2 separate regions of the Homo sapiens genome follow, and region 2 is linked to region 1. A link means that fine-mapping ties the variant in region 1 to the expression of a gene that starts in the linked region. Tissue or cell type: whole blood. Region 1 holds a variant in brackets; the other region holds the start of a gene. All regions are shown on one strand. Distances are between the middles of the regions. Region 1 has its middle 30 kb from the start of AEBP2. Region 2 holds the start of AEBP2 (AE binding protein 2).

The links.
Region 2: it holds the start of AEBP2, and the variant in region 1 is fine-mapped to the expression of AEBP2 in whole blood (INTERVAL, PIP 0.99).

What each region holds. Positions count from the first base shown.
Region 1 is chr12:19,403,927-19,414,157 of GRCh38, reverse strand. It overlaps a transcript of AEBP2 not described here and the pseudogene PDCD5P1. Among named protein-coding and RNA genes, the nearest start is that of AEBP2, 30 kb to the left of the region's middle. RefSeq lists enhancers at 2,697-3,589, 5,626-6,126. The variant T/A (reference allele first, on the strand shown) is at 3,922.
Region 2 is chr12:19,434,603-19,444,833 of GRCh38, reverse strand. It overlaps AEBP2 (AE binding protein 2), which reads right to left and starts at 5,342. Exons shown (of 8, transcript NM_153207.5): 1 at 4,464-5,342. The coding sequence starts at 5,134. RefSeq lists enhancers at 4,085-4,174, 4,205-4,254, 10,165-10,231 and silencers at 4,905-5,004, 5,015-5,164, 5,225-5,474.

The DNA.
Region 1 (10,231 bases):
CACTTTGGGAGGCTGAGGCGGGAGGATCACGAGGTCAGGAGTTCAAGATCAGCCTGGCAAACATGGTGAAACCACATCTCTACTAAAAATACAAAAATTAGCCAGGCACGATGGCAGGCGCCTGTAATCTCAGCTACTCGGGAGGTTAAGGCAGGAGAATCGCTTGGACCTAGGCAGCAGAGGTTGCAGTGAGCTGAGATGGCGGCGCTGCACTCCAGCCTGGGTGACACAGTGAGACTGTCTCAAAAAAAAAAACAAAAAACAAAAACAAACAAAAAAAAAACCTTGATAAAATAGGTTGCAGTAAGGAATCCAGCTAAATCCTACCAAAACCAAGATGGCCACAAGAGTGACCTCTGGTTGTCCTCACTGCTCACTACCAGCAGCACCATGACAGTTTACAAATGCCATGGCAACATCAGGCAGTTACCCAATATGGTCTAAAAAGGGGAGGCATGAATAATCCACCCCTCGTTTAGCATATCATCAATAAATAACCATAAAAATGGACAACCAGCGGCCCGCTGGGCTGCTCTGTCTATGGAATAGCCATTCTTTTATTTCTTTTTTTTTATTTTGCATAACAAGTTTATTTTTTAAAAGGCATATAGACAATAAACAAACTAAATATTTAATCAGATCTTAACTTCTGTCCTAGAATTGTTCTGTTAAGTTCTAGTCTGTGAGCACTTGTAGTTCAATAATCGTCTTCTTCATCAGAGTCCATTACTTTTCTTCTGTTGAATTTCACTGTTGTTGTCTTTTCTGTTTGTTGGCTTACTTTTTAAAGGATTTCTATTAAACCTTGTTCTGACACCTTCTCAGTTGTCCATATCTTGCCATCTGTATAAGGTAATTCTCTACTGCTTTAGTTTTTTCAGGCTTTACAAGTGCTAAGTTACTTAAACCTGGCCCGGCCGACTGATCCAAAACTTGGGTTAAGATACTGTTTCTCATTTCTGCTTCCCTGTGCTTTGCTTCCTGTTGGGCTGCATCGCCAGGATCCTGTCGGCTAAACTTGGGTCAGAACAAATGAATTCCGGAAAAACTGAATTCGGCCCGGCTGCTGCTGGCTCCAAAAGCTGAGACTGTGCTTGGATCCAGGCCCGCCAGGACGAGCCCGCTCCAGGCCAGGGGACCCCACACCCCAACGCCGGGGCAGGTCCTGCATGTGGCAGCCCCTGCCGCGAGCCTCCTGGGCCCCTCGTGACGGGGAAAGCGGCATGGCCACCTCGGAGCCGGCCATGAGGCCGCCAGGGCAGCGCCAGGGACCGGGCCCCCGGGGAGGCACCCAGAGCCTCCCCATTCTTTTATTTCTTTACTGTCTTAATAAACTTGCTTTCACTTTGCACTGCGGACTCTCCCTGAATTCTTTCTTGCACGAAATCCAAGAACGCTCTCTTAGGGTCTTGTTCGGGACCCCTTTCCATAACATATTTCTCTGTCCTGTAACACCAGCACTTTGCGAGGCCGAGGCAGGAGGATTGTTTGAGGCCAGGAGTTTGAGACTAGCCTGGGCAACATAGTGAGATTCTGTCTCCATAAAATTAAAAATAATAATAATAATAATAACCTTCGGAGGCCGGGTGCAGTGGCTCACACCTGTAATCCCAGCACTTTGGAAGACCAAGGTGGGCAGATCAAGAGGTCAAGACATCGAGACCATCCTGGCCAACATGGTGAAACCCCTTCTCTACTAAAAATACAAAAAAATTCGCTAGGTGTGGTGGCGTGTGCCTATAGTCCCAGCTACTCGGGAGGCTGAGGCAGGAGAATCGCTTGAACCCAGGAGGTGGAGGTTGTAGTGAACTAAGATCACACCACTGCACTCCAGCCTGGCGATAGCACAAGACCCTGTCTCAAAAATAAAAGATAAAAAAAATTAAAAAAATAAAAAACTTTGGGAATCAAAATATGCAGTCTTCACATCAGCTCTAGTGTTCATATGTGACTTCAATTTTGAATCTTAAGATACAAGATTCCAGGGCCTCTGAGAGTCCACAGAACACCTCTGTGTGACTTGGAAAAGGCACTACCTCCGGACAGATACAGCCCTGCTGAGAGCAGCTGCAGAATAAGAAGAACTCAGCCTTGCTGTCTCCACCAGTGCCCTTGTAGTACAGAACCTGCGCAGCACTTACGGACAGGAGTCTGGTGATTCATGCCTTTCACGTGGGTGATGTGAATGAGGACCCAGTTTAGAGTCAGACATACCTTTTCAATTCCAAGCCAGCCTTATGCCAGGAAATTCTGAGCTTCACTGTACATGGTCTGAGTCTGTTCTCCAACCTCTAAAATGTGCGCAATAATTTTTAGAGTTATTATGAGGAGTAAACGAGTCAATCTATGTCAAGTGTTTTCTTTCTGTCTTATAGTTGCTGCTCATTAAATGCTAGTTTCCCTGGAAGAGCTTAATAGAAATGTGAATGAATGTGTTTCCTTCGGGCGATGTTCCAGCACTGTAGAGGTCTTAGATGTGCCAGAACCTGAGAGAAGAATAATCATAGTAATAATAACAAGTATGTATTATAAGTCTTTACTTGTGCCAGGCACTGTTCTGAGAACTTTACATGGATTAACTCATTTAATCCTCCCAACTCTAAGAAGCAGGAATTTGTAAAATCCCCTTTTAGAGATGCAAAAAGGCCCTGGCCAAAATGTCCTGGGGCTCCTCTGGCTCAGTAAGAGCTAAGAACCAAAGACAGAAGAGGAAATTCTCTCTGCATTTTCAGTCTGTGTGGCTCTCTGGCAAGGCTGGGTCTCCCCATCAGGGCACGGGATGTGGTAGAGGAGGTTCCCAGGCTGAAACAGTGAGCTACATCCTCCCTCTGGACCAAGCTTCCTTTAATATTGCGAATTAGTAAATCAGCTGGATAGTTGTTCTAACACTCCAGCTAAGAGTGAACAAGGATTATAGATGAGAATAGGCTAATTTGTTTGTTTTACAGAGTTAAATAATTTCAGGAGATCCACTCTCAAATTGTAGTCCAAGCTTCCAAGTGACTTTTGCTAATAGCTTTGCCTTTTCTTTAGTTTATGTCAGTAAAATGGGTGTTGTTCCACATCTGTTAACATCCCTATAAGCTTTCAGTGAATGTTTTTTTTTGCCGTGACCGCCTCACAGCCAGTGAACTTAATCATTGCTGACATCAGCAATTTCTCTGCCATTGATATGGAAGTTAAGTTTAGTTTAAGTAAAATTAGTTTACCCAAAACCAATTACGCATTTTAGCACCTGCAATGCAAGTTAAGCCGTCCCTCCTTCCTCAAACACAGCTATTTACATTTATTAGCACTTCACTGACAGGTCTCTTCAAGCTCAAGCATTAAACGGTCTTACAAATGTTTCCTGCTCCCGAATTCTTAGATACTGAGATCCGCATGGGCTGAAACCATCCTGATTATTTCCAGAAGCCTGGGAAACAGGTCCTAGATAGTCATAATTTAGTATTTTAATTTACTCAACAAATAATTACTGAACACCTACTATGTACCAGGATTTTGTAGGGTCTCTGGTAAAGAATACAAAAATCTTTTGGTTGGGGAAGGGGGTAGATGAAGGTCACGAAACAGGGGAGAAGCAGTTCCTAGAGGCACAAGGAAGCTAGGGAGAGCGCAGGGTATTCGAATTGGCTGTCTCAGCTAGAGAAAACATCTATAAAGGGCCAGACGCAATGCAGGTTCTGTCTCAAATATTTGAATCTCTTCCATCTACACCATTTGGCAGACAGGAAGTCCCTACTCTCTGTGGATTTACTAATGGGAGAGACAAACCTCTGATGTAATGAAGTGGCAGGAGGTGTGTTTACTCCAGCTTCCCTTGAAGGGAAAGAATAGTGGCAGAAAGTTCTTCGGTGAACCCCAGGGTACACATATAAGAGTGGGAGCACGTGCTGGTTTGCAGTTTTTGTTAAATCCAAC[T/A]GGCTCCAGCTCTGTCAGATAAGAGTAAATTAATTCATTTATACTCCACAACCATAGCGGGGGATGAGAAAAAGGAGGTTGAGCAGTGAAGATTAGGGCGCTGGCCCTATCTTAGAGTGAGAGAGGGTCTAATTTCTTGAGAGAGAAGCCCTACATGTTCTGTTTTCTTGCCCTGGTCTGCTCCATTTTTGCACTTTTATAACTACTACACAAAAAAGCTATGGGTTGAAATCAGGTCCCTGGAGCATTTTTAGCTACCAGTCAATCTAGGGAAACTCTAGCTTTTGGAAGGTTAAATCAGACTATGATTCAGAGAGTTTGCATTTTAAGGAGAAGCAATGTAATTATTGCTCAGAAGAAAGTTTTAATGCAGTCCCAAGGTAATTAAGTACAAAGCCTAAATTAGATGCTGTACTTACTAAATTGACTTTCTATAACTTAGAAAAGAAGATTCCTAGGCAAAGCCCACGACATTATAATGAAAAAAGCCTTCCACTAAGCTGGTCTGATTGACTTGGTCAAATGGTATATAAATTAAATCCATCTGAAGAATCTGATCTCCAAATGGGATTTTCATTTCCATAAGACTGCAGTTTAAAAATGTATGTGAAGTAAGAAAGTAAGACTAAAATCATTTCCCCCCACGGCTGGTGAACTTGGCAGTCCACGTGGAAAATGAGCCAGCTCTTCCCTTGCTGAACAAATCCATTCAAAGTGATTTCACAGTTTTCCTTCCTTATCCTGTGGAATGTGGAAGCCATTTTCCAGTGAGTTAAAAAAATATGATTCTGAGGTTTTAACCCTTTGGGACAAGATATTCATTCTCTCTTTTTTTATTTTTCCAAGGGTATGTAGGATAATGCAATAGGGATTTTTTTTTTTTTTTAGCACAAATGCTGAAGGCAGAAAGTTGATTCAACCTTATTTAATTAGGACCCAAAGGGAATAGTTATGCCTAATATAATGCGAAGTTCTGTAATTGAACTAATATGATTTTGCAGCCACCTCTCAGGGCAACACTAACGCAAGTAGATTAAATGATGCAGGAAAAACTTTTTTGTTTTGGTGTTGCAAAATTAAATAAACTAATTAAAAATCACTAGTTGAAGGCTGCAAGCTTTTGTAGTCAAGTTGGGTTCTTTTGGGGGTACCTGACTTCCTTTGCCCAATTTTTCCCCGATTCTATGCCAAACTCTATGCCAGGTAAAAAAGATAGATATGTGTTTGCTTATATTTACATAAAATATATCTTCCGGAAAAGAAACAAAAAAAAATTTTTTTTGCTGTTTTGCTTTATTTATTTTTACTTTATTTATTTATTTATTTATTTATTTGAGACAGAGTCTCACTCTGTCACCCATGCTGGAGTGCAGTAGCGAGATCTCGGGTCACTGCAACCTCTGCCTCCCGGGTTCAAGCGATTCTCCTACCTCAGCCTCCTGAGCAGCTGGAATTACAGGTGTGCGCCACCATGCCCAGCTAATTTTTTGCATTTTTTTAGTAGAGACGGGGTTTCACCACGTTGGTTAGGCTGCTCTTGAACTCCTGACCTCGTGATCCACCTGCCTCGGCCTCCCAAAGTGCTGGGATTTTAGGTGTGAGTCACCGCGCCCGGCCTTGCATTTTTGAAATAGGCGATTCATTCACATTAAATCCAGAAAGTGTATACGAGAAAACGCTTTCTTTTTTTTTTTTTTTCTTGCTCTGTGGCCCAGGCTGGAGCGCAGTGGTGCAATCTCGGCTCACCGCAACTTCCACCTCCTGGGTTCAAGCGATTCTCCTGTCTCAGCCTCCCAAGTAACTATGCACCACCATGCTCAGCTAATTTTTTGTTGTATTTATAGTAGAGACAGAGTTTCACCATGTTGGCCAGGCTGGTCTCGAACTCCTGACCTCAGGTGATCCGTCCACCTCGGCCTCCCATAGTGCTGGGATTACAGGCATGAGCCAGCACACCCGGCCAAGAAAAGTCTTTCTACTTCTGCCTCCCAACTGCCCAGTTTCCCTTTCCAAAACAACTAATATTCTAATTTGGTTTTGTATTTTTGTTATGGTGAGATATTTTATGTATACTTAAGTAGCTACACATACGTATTCTCTAAGTCCCAAACTTAATCCTTACAAAAAGAACAGCATAGCTTAACAGAAACATCTTCCTTACATTTTAAACTTTTTTTTTTTTTTTGAGACAGAGTTTCACTCTTGTTGCCCAGGCTGGAGTGCAATGGCGCAATCTCAGCTCACTATAACCTCCGCCTCCGGGGTTCAAGCAATTCTTCTGCCTCAGACTCCTGAGTAGCTGGGATTACAGGCATGCACCACCTAGCCGGGATAAGTTTTTTGTATTTTCAGTAGAGACGGAGTTTCTCCATGTTGGTCAGGCTGGTCTCGAACTCCCAACCTCAGGTGACCCGCCCGCCTCGGCCTCCCAAAGTACTGGGATTACAGGAGTAAGCCACCACGTCCAGCCATTTTTAACTTTTTTAAGCAATAGGCTCGGCTGGGCTCAGTGGCTCACACCTGTAATCCCAGCACTTTGGGAGGCCAAGACAGAAGGATTGCTTGAGCCCAGGAGTTCAGGACCAGCCTGGGCAACATAGTAAGACCCTGTCTCTAAAAAGAAAAAAGAGATGGAGGCTGGGCGTAGTGGCTCACGCCTGTAATACCAGCACTTTGGGAGGCCAAGGCAGTCAGATCATGAGGTCAGGAGTTCAAGACCTGCCTGGCCAACATGGTGAAACCCCGTCTCTACTAAAAATACAGAAATTAACTGGGCATGGTGGCGTGCGCCTGTAATCCCAGCTACTTGGGAGGCTGAGGCAGGAGAATTGCTTGAGCTGGGACCTGGGAGGTGGAGGTTGCAGTGAGCCAAGATTGCGCCCGGGCTACAGACCCAGACTCCATCTCAAAAGAAAAAAAAAAGAAAAAAGAAAAAAGAGATGGGGTCTTTCTGTGTCACCCGAGCTGAAGTGCAGCGGTACCAATAGCTTACTGCAACCTTGCGTTGAACTTCTGGGCTCAAATAATCTTCCCACCTTAGCCTCCGGAGTAGCTGGGACTACAGGTGTGCACCATGCCAGGCTAATTCTTTTTTGTTGTTAGAGATGGGGTTTCGCTATGTTGTTCATAATGTTCTCAAATTATTGGGCTTGAGTAATCTTCCTGTCTCAGCCTCCTGAGTAGCCGAGATTACAAGTGTGAGACACCATGCCCAATCTTTACATTTTTTTAAACGTAAAAAATTTCTTTGACAGAGGAGCAAAGGTAATACAATAGAGAAAAGATAGTCTTTTCAACAAATGTTGTTGAACAACTGGACATCCACATGCAAAATATGAAACTAGACAGACCTTACATCCTTCACAAAAATTAGTTCAAAATGGATCACAGACCTAAATGTAAAACGCAAAACTATAAAGCTCACAGAAGATAACATAGGAGAAAATCCAGATGATCTTGAATTTGGTGATCACTTTTTAGATAGAACACCAAAGGCAAGATCCGTGAGAGAAATAATTGATAAAATAGACCTCAGTAAAATTTTTTTTTTTTTTTGAGACAGAGTTTCGCTCTTGCTGCCCAGGCTGGAGTGCAATGGCGCAATCTCAGCTCACTGCAACCTCCGCCTCCTGGGTTCAAGCGAATTCTCCTGTCTCAGCCTCCAGAGTAAGCTGGGATTACAGGTGCATGCCACCACGTTCGGCTATTTTCTGTATTTTTAGTAGAGACGGGGTTTCATCATATTGGTCAGGCTGATCTCGAACTCCTGACCTCAGGTAATCCACCCACCTGGGCCTCCCAAAGTGTGCGTCTATTTATCTGAAGATTGTTAGTGCAGTTAAACTATTTTGTATGATAATATAATCATGATGCATGTCATTATACATTTTTGTAAACCCACAGAATGTATGATGCCAAGAGTGAGCCCTAATGTAAACTATGGACTTTGGGTGATAATGATGTATCAATGTAGGCTGGGTGTGGTGGCTCATGCCTATAATCCCAGCACTTTGGGAGCCCTAGGCAGTGGATCACTTGAGGTCAGAAGTTCGAGACTAGCCTGGCCAATATGGTGAAACCCCATCTCTACTAAAAATGCAAAAATTAGCCAGGCGTGGTGGCAGGCTCCTGTAATCCCAGCTACTTGGGAGGCTAAAGCAGGAGAGTCCTTTGACTCGGGAGGCAGAGGTTGCAGTGAGCCAAGATTGCACCACTGCACTCCAGCCTGGAGTGAGACTCCGTCTCAAAAAAGAAAAAAAAAAAAAAAACTGGCCAGGCATGGTGGTGCACATCTGTAGTCCCAGCTACTCCGGAGGCTGACACAGGAGAATCACTTGAACTCGGGAGGTGGAGGTTGCAGTGAGCTGAGATGGCCCACTGTACTCCAGCCTGGGGACACAGACTCCATCTCAAAAAAAAAGATAAAGTATCAATGTAGGTTTATAGGTTCATTGATTTTAATAAATGTATCCTCTGGTGAGGGATGTTCATAATGGGGGTGTGAGACGAAGCAGGAACCCCTGTTAGGGGCCTGCCAGTCCTCCCACCTCTCTACCATCCTGCCACAAGCATGAAAATAGAGGAAAATCTTGAATTTCTTTAAGAACAAATCCAGCCGGGCGCAGTGGATCACGCCTGTAATCCCAGGACTTTGGGAGGGTGAGGTGGGCGGATCACGAGGTCAAGAGATGGAGACCATCCTGACCAACATGGTGAAACCCTGTCTGTACTAAAAATACAAAAATTAGCTGGGTATGGTGGTACATGCCTGTCAGTCCCAGCTACTCAGGAGGCTGAGGCAGGAGAATTGCTTGAAATCGGAGTCAGAGGTTGCAGTGAGCCGAGATCGCGCCACTGCACTCCAGCCTGGCGACAGAGCGAGACTCCGTCTCAAAAAAAAAAATAAGTAAATAAAATAAAAATAACAATTCCAGATACCTAGCTAGTGCTGAGAAGTAAATAAGCAATTTGATAAGCAAGAAGGTAATAGTAGCCTAAAACGATAGCCAACTGGGCGAGGTGGCTCACGCCTGTAACCCCAGCACTTTGGGAGGACGAGTCGGACAGATCACTTGAGTTCCAGAACAGCCTTGGCAACATGGTGAAACCCCATCTCTACTAAAAAGGCAAAAAATTAGCTGGGCGTGGTGGGGCATGCCTGTAGTCCCAGCTACTCAGGAGGCTTGAGGCAGGAGAATCACTTGAACCCTGGAGGCAGAGGTTGCAGTGAGTCCAGATCTCGCCACTGCACTCCAGCCTGGGCAACACAGTGAGACCTTGTCTGAAAAAAAAAAAAAAAAAAAAAAGAGTAGCCAAGGAAGTTGGAATCACGAGATGTTTGGTTCCCTATAGAAACTAAAAATAATATCGTAACATATGGCCCTGCGTTTCATAAACATGGATCCCTAACAAATGGATCCACTGCCACATAGACCTCAGATAAGGGAGAACTGAGAACTCAACTCTCCCGCATTCTTTGTTCTAAATTTCTTCCTGAGGAGCCTGGAGAAAGCCACACCCACGAGCCAGACCCAACGTTCTTTTCTGCGGAACCCAGTCTTTATAAATGCTTCCCTTCCTTAACCAGTTGTAAATCAGAAAATCTTTGAAACCTTGTTTTTCCAATATGGCGGATAGGAGCCGGTGTTAGCGTGCCTCTCCCACTTGGAAAGACAGAATAGTGTGTAGAGATTCACACTGTGAACATTTTTCCGAGAAGCAACACAGGAACTTAACAGAAAACCACAGACCCTTTGAAAGAAGCAGTGGGTAGCACCCTACACTGTGAAGTAGAAAACTGTTGAGTTTTCAGAGCCTGAGAGGAAGCGCGATGGCCGCCATGCCACACACGCCCTAAAAGAGCTGGGCAACCCAGGCCACAGGGGAAGGCCTTAACCCTACCCAGCTGTTGCTGATTTAGTGAGTGATGGGGAATGTGTGAGAAAGAGTGGCTCTGGGAAGTGCTCTGCACGCACTCCCAGACTCACGCAGGGACAGAGGGAAGCCATTCCTGATCCTACCTCACAAAGGACCGCTGGGAAGTCGGCCAGCTAACTCAGGCGATGGTCACAGGTTAAGAGAAGCTCCCAAGTGAGATCTGCGATATAATCACCTTGACTGGGGACGATCTCCGTTGTCCAGAACCGAGGGTCGAGCGGGAAGTGCGGCGAAGGAGCTGGTTGCCCTTGCTTTACAGGTGGACGCTGGGAGGGGCGTGGCCTGAAAGCCAGGGTTGCTATCTCTCTAGGAAGGCTTATGGCCTGGAGCTTTTTTTTTGAAACGGAGTCTCCTTCTGTCGCCCAGGCTGGAG
Region 2 (10,231 bases), 31 kb before region 1:
CACACCCAAGATATTATGTTAGGTACTTACAAAGATACTAAAAAAGCAAAAATGTCCCTGCCCTCCAAAATACCATTCTACAACAGAAAAGATGCACGCATTCAAGCAACGTGGATGGATTCCTCCAAACAGTTCACAGCGCTCTTTAACAGAAATTATTTCACTTGAACCACAAAACAACACTTCAGAGTAATACCTGTTTTGTAGTTGAGGAACTAAAGTTCAAAGATATACTACTCAAAAATTGAAATATAGGCAGTAATATTAAGATTTGCGCCAGGTCTGGTGGTTCATGCTCAGGCTAGTCTCCTGACCTCATGTGATCTGCCCTCCTCGGCCTCCCAAAGTGCTGGAATCACAGGTGTGGGCCACATGCCTGGCCAAGAGTACTTTCATATATTAACTGATTCAATAGCTAGTACTAATTTGTTAACTAACTCCACGGGCATTTTAAATATTAAAATTCCATTTAAAAGCTAATTTACTACTTGAACTTGAGACTGTCTTCTATTTTCTCGGCATTAACTTTTTTAGCATAAATACACGTTCAGTAACAAGTGCTGACATTTGATCACTTTTTGGATGACTCATTCATTCAACCATATTTTAAACTATTTTTACATGATACTGTGTTGGAAGAATGAAAATAAAATTATGTTTAAAATTTTTTAAATTTTTTTTAAAGTTACCATAGCCTCTGAAATTAACCTAAGAGCATAACTTTTTTAAAAAGTACTTCAGCTTCACTGAAGAGAAAAAAAGTTCAGAGTAAAGAAAAGCTAGTTTTTAGCGGTTTCACATAGCTAAATACTTCTCCCTACTATCTTTATAACCAAAATACTTCTCCCTACTATCTTTATAACCAAAGTAAAAATAAAATTACATATAAATTTCAAGAATTTCTAAATTTACTAAAATAAACACGCTATAAACTTACACTGGTTTTGAAAAACTTTCTTCTGGGGGGAAAAAAATCAACTTTTTGTACCAAGTGGTATTTAATCATTTCATAAATTAGTCACTTTTTACCACAAAACCTTCCAATACCATAAATGACATCTCAGGTCATAACCTCTAATATCTATGTCTTTATATTTAATTATCTTTTTTTGAGATGGAGTCTTGCTCTGTCGCCCACGCTGGAGTGCAGTGGTGCAATCTCAGCTCACTGTAACCTCCGCCTCCCAGATTCAAGCCATTCTCCTGCCCCAGCCTCCTGAGTAGCTGGGATTACATGCCTGCACCACCATGCCTGGCTCATTTTTTTGTATTTTTAGTAGAGATGGGGTTTCACCATGTTGTCCAGGCTGGTCTTGGAATTCCTTGACCTCAAATGATCCACCCGACTCGGCCTCCCAAAGTGCTGGGATTACAGGGGTGAGCCACCATGCCCGGCCTAATTATCTTTTTAAAAGTAGCACTTAAGATATTTAACATGGCCTGCGGTGGCGGCTCACTCCTGTAATCCCAGCACTTTGGAAGACCCAGGTGGGAGGATCATTTGAGGTCAAGGAATTTCAAGACCAGCCTGGACAACATGGTGAAATCGCATCTCTACTAAAAACAAAAATTAGCCAGGGGTGGTGGCACTCACCTGTAATCCCAGTTACTCAGGAGGCTGAGGAAGGAGAATCGCTTGAACCCACAAGGCAGAGGTTGCAGTGAGCCGAGATCGTACCACTGCACTCCAGCCTGGGCGATAGAGTGAGACTCGTCTCAAAAAAAAAAAAGAAAAAGATATTTAACAAAGATGTTCAACAAATTCTAGAGCATATCAGATAAACTAAAAAGCACAACGTAACCAAAACGATGGGAAAGGTAAATGGGCATTATAATAGAATCTTTGTAATAGGAATGCCTAAAAATGTTATAGAGCACTTTAAAACTAAGATTATCCTTCCACTGGTTACAAAAATGAAGTTTTCTTACCATGAAATCAACCTATAAAATCCACAGATTGATGTAATCTACAGTAATTTATAAGAATTAGGGATCCTTTCCAAACTCAAAATAACTGGGAGAAAAATCTCAAAGGCAACAAGAAGATGTTTCAGAATTAAGATTATTAAGACCCCAAGCCAGTTTCACTAGTAAGCCTTCTTCATACAAGTGACAAATCTATTACCCTGAAATGGTGACATTAAAAACAGTATTCTGTAGTCTCTAAAATTAAGCATTAAGAAAACCAAGTTTGCTTGGTTATCAAGTTTTAACTGTAGTTGGATTTGTGACACCCGTATTTTACTTCTTATTCTGAAATAAGATGTAAAAATTATATACTCAAGTAAATATCTCATTAATGTCAAATAAAAGCCACAACTCCACTTCCTAAATGTACTTAACCAATAATTCGTCTCCTGAAGTGATGTAGTAAATGGACACTAACTAAAAACAAAACTCTGACACATATCACTTGGTTTTTTTTTGAGACGGAGTCTCGCTCTGTCGCCCAGGCTGGAGTGCAGTGGCACCATCTCAGCTCACTGCAACCTCTGCCTCCCGGGTTCAAGCGATTCTCCTGCCTCAGCCTCCCGAGTAGCTGGGAACACAGGCGCGCGCCACCACTCTCGGGTAATTTTTGTATTTTTAATGTAGATAAGGTTTCACTATGTTGGCCAGGCTGATCTCAAACTCCCAACTCAGGTGATCCGCCCACCTCGGCCTCCCAAAGTCCTGGGGTTAACAGGCCTGAGCCACCGCGCCCGGCCTCAACTTATTTAAGGCGAATTATTTTAACTCTTCAGTGGAAATAATAGGGGACTTGAGAACCTTTGCTCATATCCAGCCCACCATTTCCATGCTGTATTTACTGTCCTGAGTAAGATACTCAACTTGCTTCTTCATCTGTTAAACAGAAGTCAAAATAATACCTATCTTGCACCATAGTTGTGGGAATGAAATGGAAGACATCTAATTTGTACAGTGGTAGGCAAGCATAATACGTGTATACTGAGTAAATGAAAAACGCTGATTTTATAAACTAATGTCAACTTTCAGATATGTAATGGTATCAGAGGAGCATAAAATGGTAAAAATAGCACATGCTTCATTGTGCAGTTTACATCAATTTTTAATTTTCTTGAAGACATTCTCCTTCCTACCCATGCCTACACAGTTCAACACAATTTTTCTAAGGTTTATACAGTCTACTTTACCCGAAGATATTTTCTTAACTAGACGTTAATGTCAAACAGAATCTAATGCCAGATTTTCAAAATATCCAGGACTCTGTATTACTTGTAGCATTAAATACTAAGGTGTTCGTTTTTAATCAATTAATCAGAATTCCTAGAACTTTAGAATATTAAACTCTTAAATGAAAATCACTATCGACCACTAAAATTTCCATTGCTATACTTTTCTGGAGAGCATGTTTAAAAAAAATGTGATTGTCAAAACATAGATGGTCAAAATAAACGCTAATACACTTTAGAAGTGGCATAATATGCATGTGATTCTCGTTTTTTTAAAAGTACATTAAAAACCAACTAACCCAAACAGATCAAAAGTAATGATAAGACAATTGAAACATACACTATCACACTTTTTAAATGTTCTGAAAAAATGCGCATTTTTGTCACTCTCCAGTTACTTCTAACAAGCTTTAGTAAGAAAAATAATACTCATTCCTTCCGAGACCTCTCCAATGCATGACTTTAAATATTATCATTTAAAATCATGACTCTCATGTTGAAACATTACTATAAAGCCGCAAACTACGTTGTACCTTCAAGACTGTATTTTGTTACGATTCCAACTCTCTGATTCCGCAAAGTTATCTTAAAAGGCCATCAATTCACTATTCTTTTCCACAACCATTTATACGTGTTTAAAACTTTTTCCCAGATATGCTCCCAAAACAAATAGAAAAGATTGTTAAAATCACGTTGGAGACCACATGACTGACTACAAATGAGGGATTTGGGAGGCAATGATTTAATATAAAAGAACAGTCCTTTTTTTGTTTAAGTAGAGAAAAGTGATAGCTGGGGTCTCTCCCATGGACAAGGAAGTTCTGTTAAATCCAGGCGAGACCAGCCATATTGGAAACACTTGTCAATTGTAGTTCTGACAAGTGTTCCCGAACACGGTTGGAAGAAGCTAACCTTGAGTACCGACGTGTGTACATCAAGGCCCTCTTCTGCTCCGCCAGAGGATCTGGGCCCGTTTGGGGACTGTTTCCGAGTTAGAGCCGTCCTGAGGTCCGTGAGGAGCGAAGCGCCGAGGGGAAAGAGGGCGGGGAAAGGAGAGTTGGGGGGGAACGGTTTGAGAGTTGGAAGCCGCGATGCGCTGCGAGAGGGGCGCGGCGGCGACGGCGAGAGATTTCCGAGTTGAGAGTCTGGGGGAGGGGCCGAGGATTCGGGGAGCAGGGGGATCGCGGCAAAACGTCGCCTTGGTCCCCCTCTGAGGGGCCCGGGAGTTCAAGAGGAGGAAGGGAAGGGGAAACGCTTCAGAGCACTGACCTGTCCTCCGAGTCCATGCGGCTCAGGGGTTCCCCATCCGACGACATCTCCAAGCTGCCCCGCCGGCCCCCGGAGGTCGCGCTGCTTCCGCCTCCCCCAGTCCCGTAGCCCTCGTCGCCGCCGCTGGAGACTACGCTGCTGCTACTGCTGCCGCCCCCGCCGCCGCCCTGGCTGCCCCGCGGTCCCTTGGGCTCCTCCAGGCCCTCCTTGCCGTCCCCATCCCCGCTGCTGCTGCTGGCGGCGCCGGGGCTCAACGAGCGGGTCTCGTCGCTGCTGCTCCCGCCGCTGCTGCCCACCAGGCTCTCGGCGCTACTCTCCTCCTCACCCCCGCCGCTGCTGCTGCTCTCATCTTCCTCCTCCTCGTCGTCCTCCTCCTCGTCTTCGTCCTCCCCGGCCTGGCTGGCGCTCTCGGGGCTCGGCTCCGACATCGTCTCTGCCTCGCCGCCCCCCACTCCTCCGCCGCCGCCTCCGCCGCCCCCACCGCTGCCGCCGTTCAGCAGCAGCGCCGCCACCGCCTCGGCCTCCGCCTCCTCTTCCTCCTCCTCCTCTTCCTCCTCCTCCTCGGGGGGCTCAGCCCGGCCCCGCGCCGCCGAACCCGGGCTGCCGGGGGGCAGAGGGCTCAGGCGGGAGAGCTCCTCCAGGTCGGCCATGTCGGTGATAGCGGCGGCCATGGCGGCGCCTGCTCCTCCTCCTCCTCCTCCTCCCCACCGCCGCCTCCCTCTCTCGACTCTCTCTCCCTCGCCCCCCTCCCAAACGCCCAAAACTCCGCCGACGCCGCTGCAGAGCAGGAGGAGGGCCCGCGAGCTGCGTCAGCCTGCACACGCGCTACGGAGCCCGCGCGGGGACAGGCGCGCGACTACGCGCACTCACACGGAGACTGCTGCGCGCCTGCGCGGCGGCACGAGGCAGCACCTCCCCCGGCTGCGGGTTCTGCGCCCCCGCCCCCGCCCGGCGCCCGCCCCGCTGCCCAGTGCCCGCCCCCGCCCCCGCCCCGGCGCCTGCAAGTGCTCAGCGTTTCCTCGGGGCCTTCCCACGCCCTGCCGGGCTTCGAAGCCCAGGGACACGCGGACTGAAAACTCCAACGCTGGCCGGGGATTTTAGCAGCCTTCCGAGTTCTCACGATAAACTCATTCATTCCGGGGGTGTTTGAGGAGTGTCCCCTCTGTACAGGAGCTGAGCCAGGAATAGAACGAGCCTACAGTCTACGAAGAGAGCGGTTTAAAATGGGCAAAAATTAAAACACTACGGTGTAAGGTACTAAATTTTTATGCGCAACACAGGGCGACAGGTTTTAATACACCCTATGTTTGAATACCCCTGGAGATGTTGACATCCTGAACCCAGAGCAAACATCTTGGTTCAGGGTCCTCAAACTTTTTACTTCATGAGCCTTCTAAAACAATTTCGTAAAGCTGTGTATGTTCTTATACAGTTTAGAATGACAGCTACATTTTTCCGGCTTATAAATATTTCATCTGTCGCATTGTTTAAATACTGTATAGCCAATGGATTCTAAATACCATAGGGATTTAACACCCACTAATATCCATTTTTTTAAAATACAGTTTGGAAAATACAATTTCCAAATATTGTTTTCTGGAACTCATATTGACGTTGCATATCTCCTCTAGAATTTTATCCTAGTAATATATTTTATATTTGAACTATTTTGATCGTCTTACTTGTAATAAAAATGTGAACATAAATTGAAGTATCTGGGTTGTTTTTTATATTTTCTGTGATCATAAAGCTCTTATTTCAACCGATCAAAACAAATCTATTTCAAATGTTTGTAAGTACTAAACACAAAAGCAAAATTTTATTGGCAATGCATCTTGCAGAAATGAACTTGGGTGGACTTTTTTCTAATATACATTATGACCTTCAGTGGATGGATTTTTTTGAGAAATAGTTCAGCATCAGTTCTATTCCAAGTTTTCAATTCCATGGATATAAGTGTTGAGAAAACTTGTTCGCATAAAAAAAGCAGATGAGAATGAATGGAGTTTTGTTATAGTAATGCCACACAATTCTTTGAATGCCTTTCGCATTATATGCCCAAAAATCGCATAAAGATCTAACAAAGAAAAAATACTTTTAATGATCTGTCAGCTGACAACTCTGATTAGGTTCTCTTTCAACTTGTTGAAAGCAAGCAACTGAAAACCACCTGACTTGTGAAAGGATGTGTTACCCCATTCTTATTCACCAGTCAATTGTGCCTTTCTTTGGTGTCCTGGAGGTTTTTGCATAACCGGGTATTGCACCTTACTAAGATTTAGCATGAGGAAGAATTATGCCTTTCTTTTGTAAAGTAGGGAAGAGGTCATTGGAAGAAAGGAGACTGGAAAAGAGCCCACATTACACCCTGACCCAAGGACACATTTTCAGGCCAATTTTAGGGATGCTTCTACTCAAGGAAAATGAGGATAGAACTGACTGCCTGAAAACAGAGCCTCCATGCTCATTTCCCATTTGGGAAAGTCGTCATATACCGTGAGTACCCAGTATTACATCCTCTGCCTTAGGCCTTTGGACAACTGTTATATAAAATGTTGCCTCTAAGGGAATGCAAAAATAATAACATGGGACATCATTTACAGATACCTTCAGAGGCACATACAATGTAAGGTATTAACTTCCAACATTTTAAACCTCAAAGGCAATCTTAGATAAGGAATGTATTAAAGTGAAATACACTGTAAACTGTAAATTAAAAACTATCAGAAGGCCGGCAGGGTGGCTTATACCTGTAATCCCAGCACTTTGGGAGGCCAAAGTAGGAGGCTCACTTGAGCCCAGGAGTTTGAGACCAGCCTGGGTAAAATAGCGAGACCCTGTCTCTACGGCACACCTGTAGTCCCAGCTACTCAGGAGGCTGAAGTGGGAGGTTCACTTGAGCCCTGGAGGTTGAGGCTGCAGTGAGCCATGATCATGCCACTGCACTCCATACCTTTCCTCACCCATCATAAGGGTCATGGCCAACACTTCTACAACAAAAGACAGGTTAACAAGAGAAAAGTGTAACAAATTAATTTAATGGAAGTCTTATGTGACACAGGAGCCTTCAGAAGTAAAGACCCAGAGAAAGCTGTCCATTTGTATGCCTAGATTCAACAGAGTGGACATCCATGTAGAAATGTGATTGTACAAAAAGAGAATGAACTAATAGTAATAGACTGAGTGTGGAAACCCAGCAAGGCCTGTCCAGATTCGTCTTGACCTCTCTGTGTAGCATTCCTTCCACACCCAGGTATAGAGCAGACTTCTCTGGAATGAGAGTCTTCAAATGAGAAGGCAGAGAGTGACCTTTCTTCGTTTCATGGCTTACTTTGTGGGGAAAGGAGTTCTGGTTTATATGACTAGCCTAGGGTGAGTAACAGGGATAGGAGACAGCAGGACAGAGGTTCAGTGAGAGACTTTGCTTCTCAGGCTTTCCAATCTCCTTTAGTTCAAAGTACTCAGCATGGGGGCCAGGTGCAGTGGCTCACTCTTGTAATCCCAGCACTTTGGGAAACTGAAGCAGGGGGATCACTTGAGCCCAGGAGTTCGAGACCAGCCTGAGCAATGGGATGAAACTCCATCGCTACAAAACACTTTTTTTTGTTGTTAACTAGCCAGGTGTGGTGGTGTGCACCTGTAGTCCCAGCTACTTGGGAGGCTGAGGTGGGAGGACAGCTTGAGCCAGGAGATTGAGGCTGCAGTGAACTGTGAGTGATCAAGAGCCATTGCACTCCAGTTTGGGCAATAGAGTAAGACCTTATCCCCCCCCCAAAAAAAAAAGAAAAAAGAAAAGAAAACAAAAGAAAACACAAAGTGTTACCAGAAAGGGGCCCCGATCCCGACCCCAGGAGAGGGTTCTTGGACCTCACACAAGAAAGAATTTGGGGTAAGTCCATACAGTAAAGTGAAAGCAAGTTTATTAAGAAAGTAAAGGAATAAAAGAATGGCTACTCCATAGACAGAGCAGCACTGAGGGCTTCTGGCTGGCCACTTTTATGGTCATCTCCTGATTATACGCTAAACAAGGGGTAGATTATTCATGAGTTTTCCAGGAAAAGGGTGGGCAGTTCCTGGAAATGAGGGTTTCTCCATTTTTTAGACGATAGGGTAACTTCCCGACATTGGCATGGCATTTGTAAACTGTCAAGGCACTGGTGGGAGTTGTCTCTTAGCATGCTAATGTATTATAATTAGCACATAATGAGTAGCTACGATGACCAGAGGTCACTTACATCGCATCTTGGTTTTTGTGTGTTTTGGTCAGCTTCTTTACCACATCCTTTTACCAGCAAGGAGTTTGTGACCTGTATCTTGTGCTGACCTGCTATCTTATCCTAACTTAGAATGCCTAACCTCCTGGGAATGCAGCCCAGTAGGTTTCAGCCTTATTTTACCCATCCCGTATTCACGATGCGAGTCGCTGTGGTTCGAACACCTCTGACAAAAGTACTCAGCATGCCAAAGCACCATACTTTGGGGTATCATTTTCTGAGCCCCAACAAATGTATGTGCCAGACACTGTGTTAAGCCCTGGAGATTATGGTTCATGTTTGGCCGAGTTAATCAAGGAAAGCTTCATGAAAAATGTAGGATTTCGACAAAGTGTATAGTAAGACATACAATAACTATATCTGGTTTCATTAATTTGAGCTGGATTTTGAAGAGCGAACAGAATTCTGTGTTGGGGAACTCAAACTGAGAAGCAATATACGGAAAAGCATCAACATTTATTCATGACAAGGTTAATTAACCATAAGAAATCATGGCAAGAAAGCTAAAAATAGTTAAATATTAGATTGAAGAAGGACATGAATAAAAAGTTGATGTTGGGGACCAGTCACAGTGGCTCATGCCTGTAATCCAGCACTGTGGAGAGCTGAGACAGACAAATCACTTGAGGTTACGAGTTCAAGGCCAGCCTGGCCAACAAGGTGAAACCCTATCTCTACAAAAAATAAAAAAATTAGCCAGGCACAGGAGAATCACTTGAACCCGGGAGGTGGAGGTTGCAGTGAGCCGAAATTGCGCCACTGCACTCCAGCCTGGGTGACGGAGCATGACACCGTCTCAAGAAAAAAAAAAAAAAATTAGCCAGTCATGGTGGCACACAGCTATGGGAGGCTGAGGTGGGAGGATCACCTGAGCCTAGGGAGGTCCAGGCTTTCAGTAAGCCAAGCACCACTGCACTTCAGCCTGGGTGACAGAGTGAGACTTTGTCTCAAAAAAAAAAAAAAAGTTCTGACAGGTATGTACTAAGATATTTTAATAAAGGTATGATATGATTAGATTATATTGTACATCTGTAGAATCTAATATATAGGAGATAGGATGAAAAGTGTGAAAAGTTCCAGTGAAGGATTTATTAAGGGAAAAAAAAAGTGTCAAAAGTGAATGGAGATTAGACACATGGAAATGGCAAGTATCAAAGCCACAAACGAATATTTTAGCTGTGGTATTTATACTTGAAGACTAAAATGAACTGTCTCGGAATTGGCATTTTGCAGAAAATTGTGTTTCCCATCACTGGAGAGTTTCCCTGTCTTCCTCTTGGTTTAGTTGCAGACATCACTGCTCTGCATGCATCTCCTTAGAACAAGGCCACACTCCTCCATAACCACAGTGACAGGATGTCATTATTTCACTCTCAAAATTTAAATAACTGAAGTGTTGAACTAGAGCAGAACCTCTGTGTGACAGTTTCTTTTGGCAGCATCAGGTGACAGGTTTGATGATCCTGAGGACCAAAGTCATTCCCCAGCTCAGTA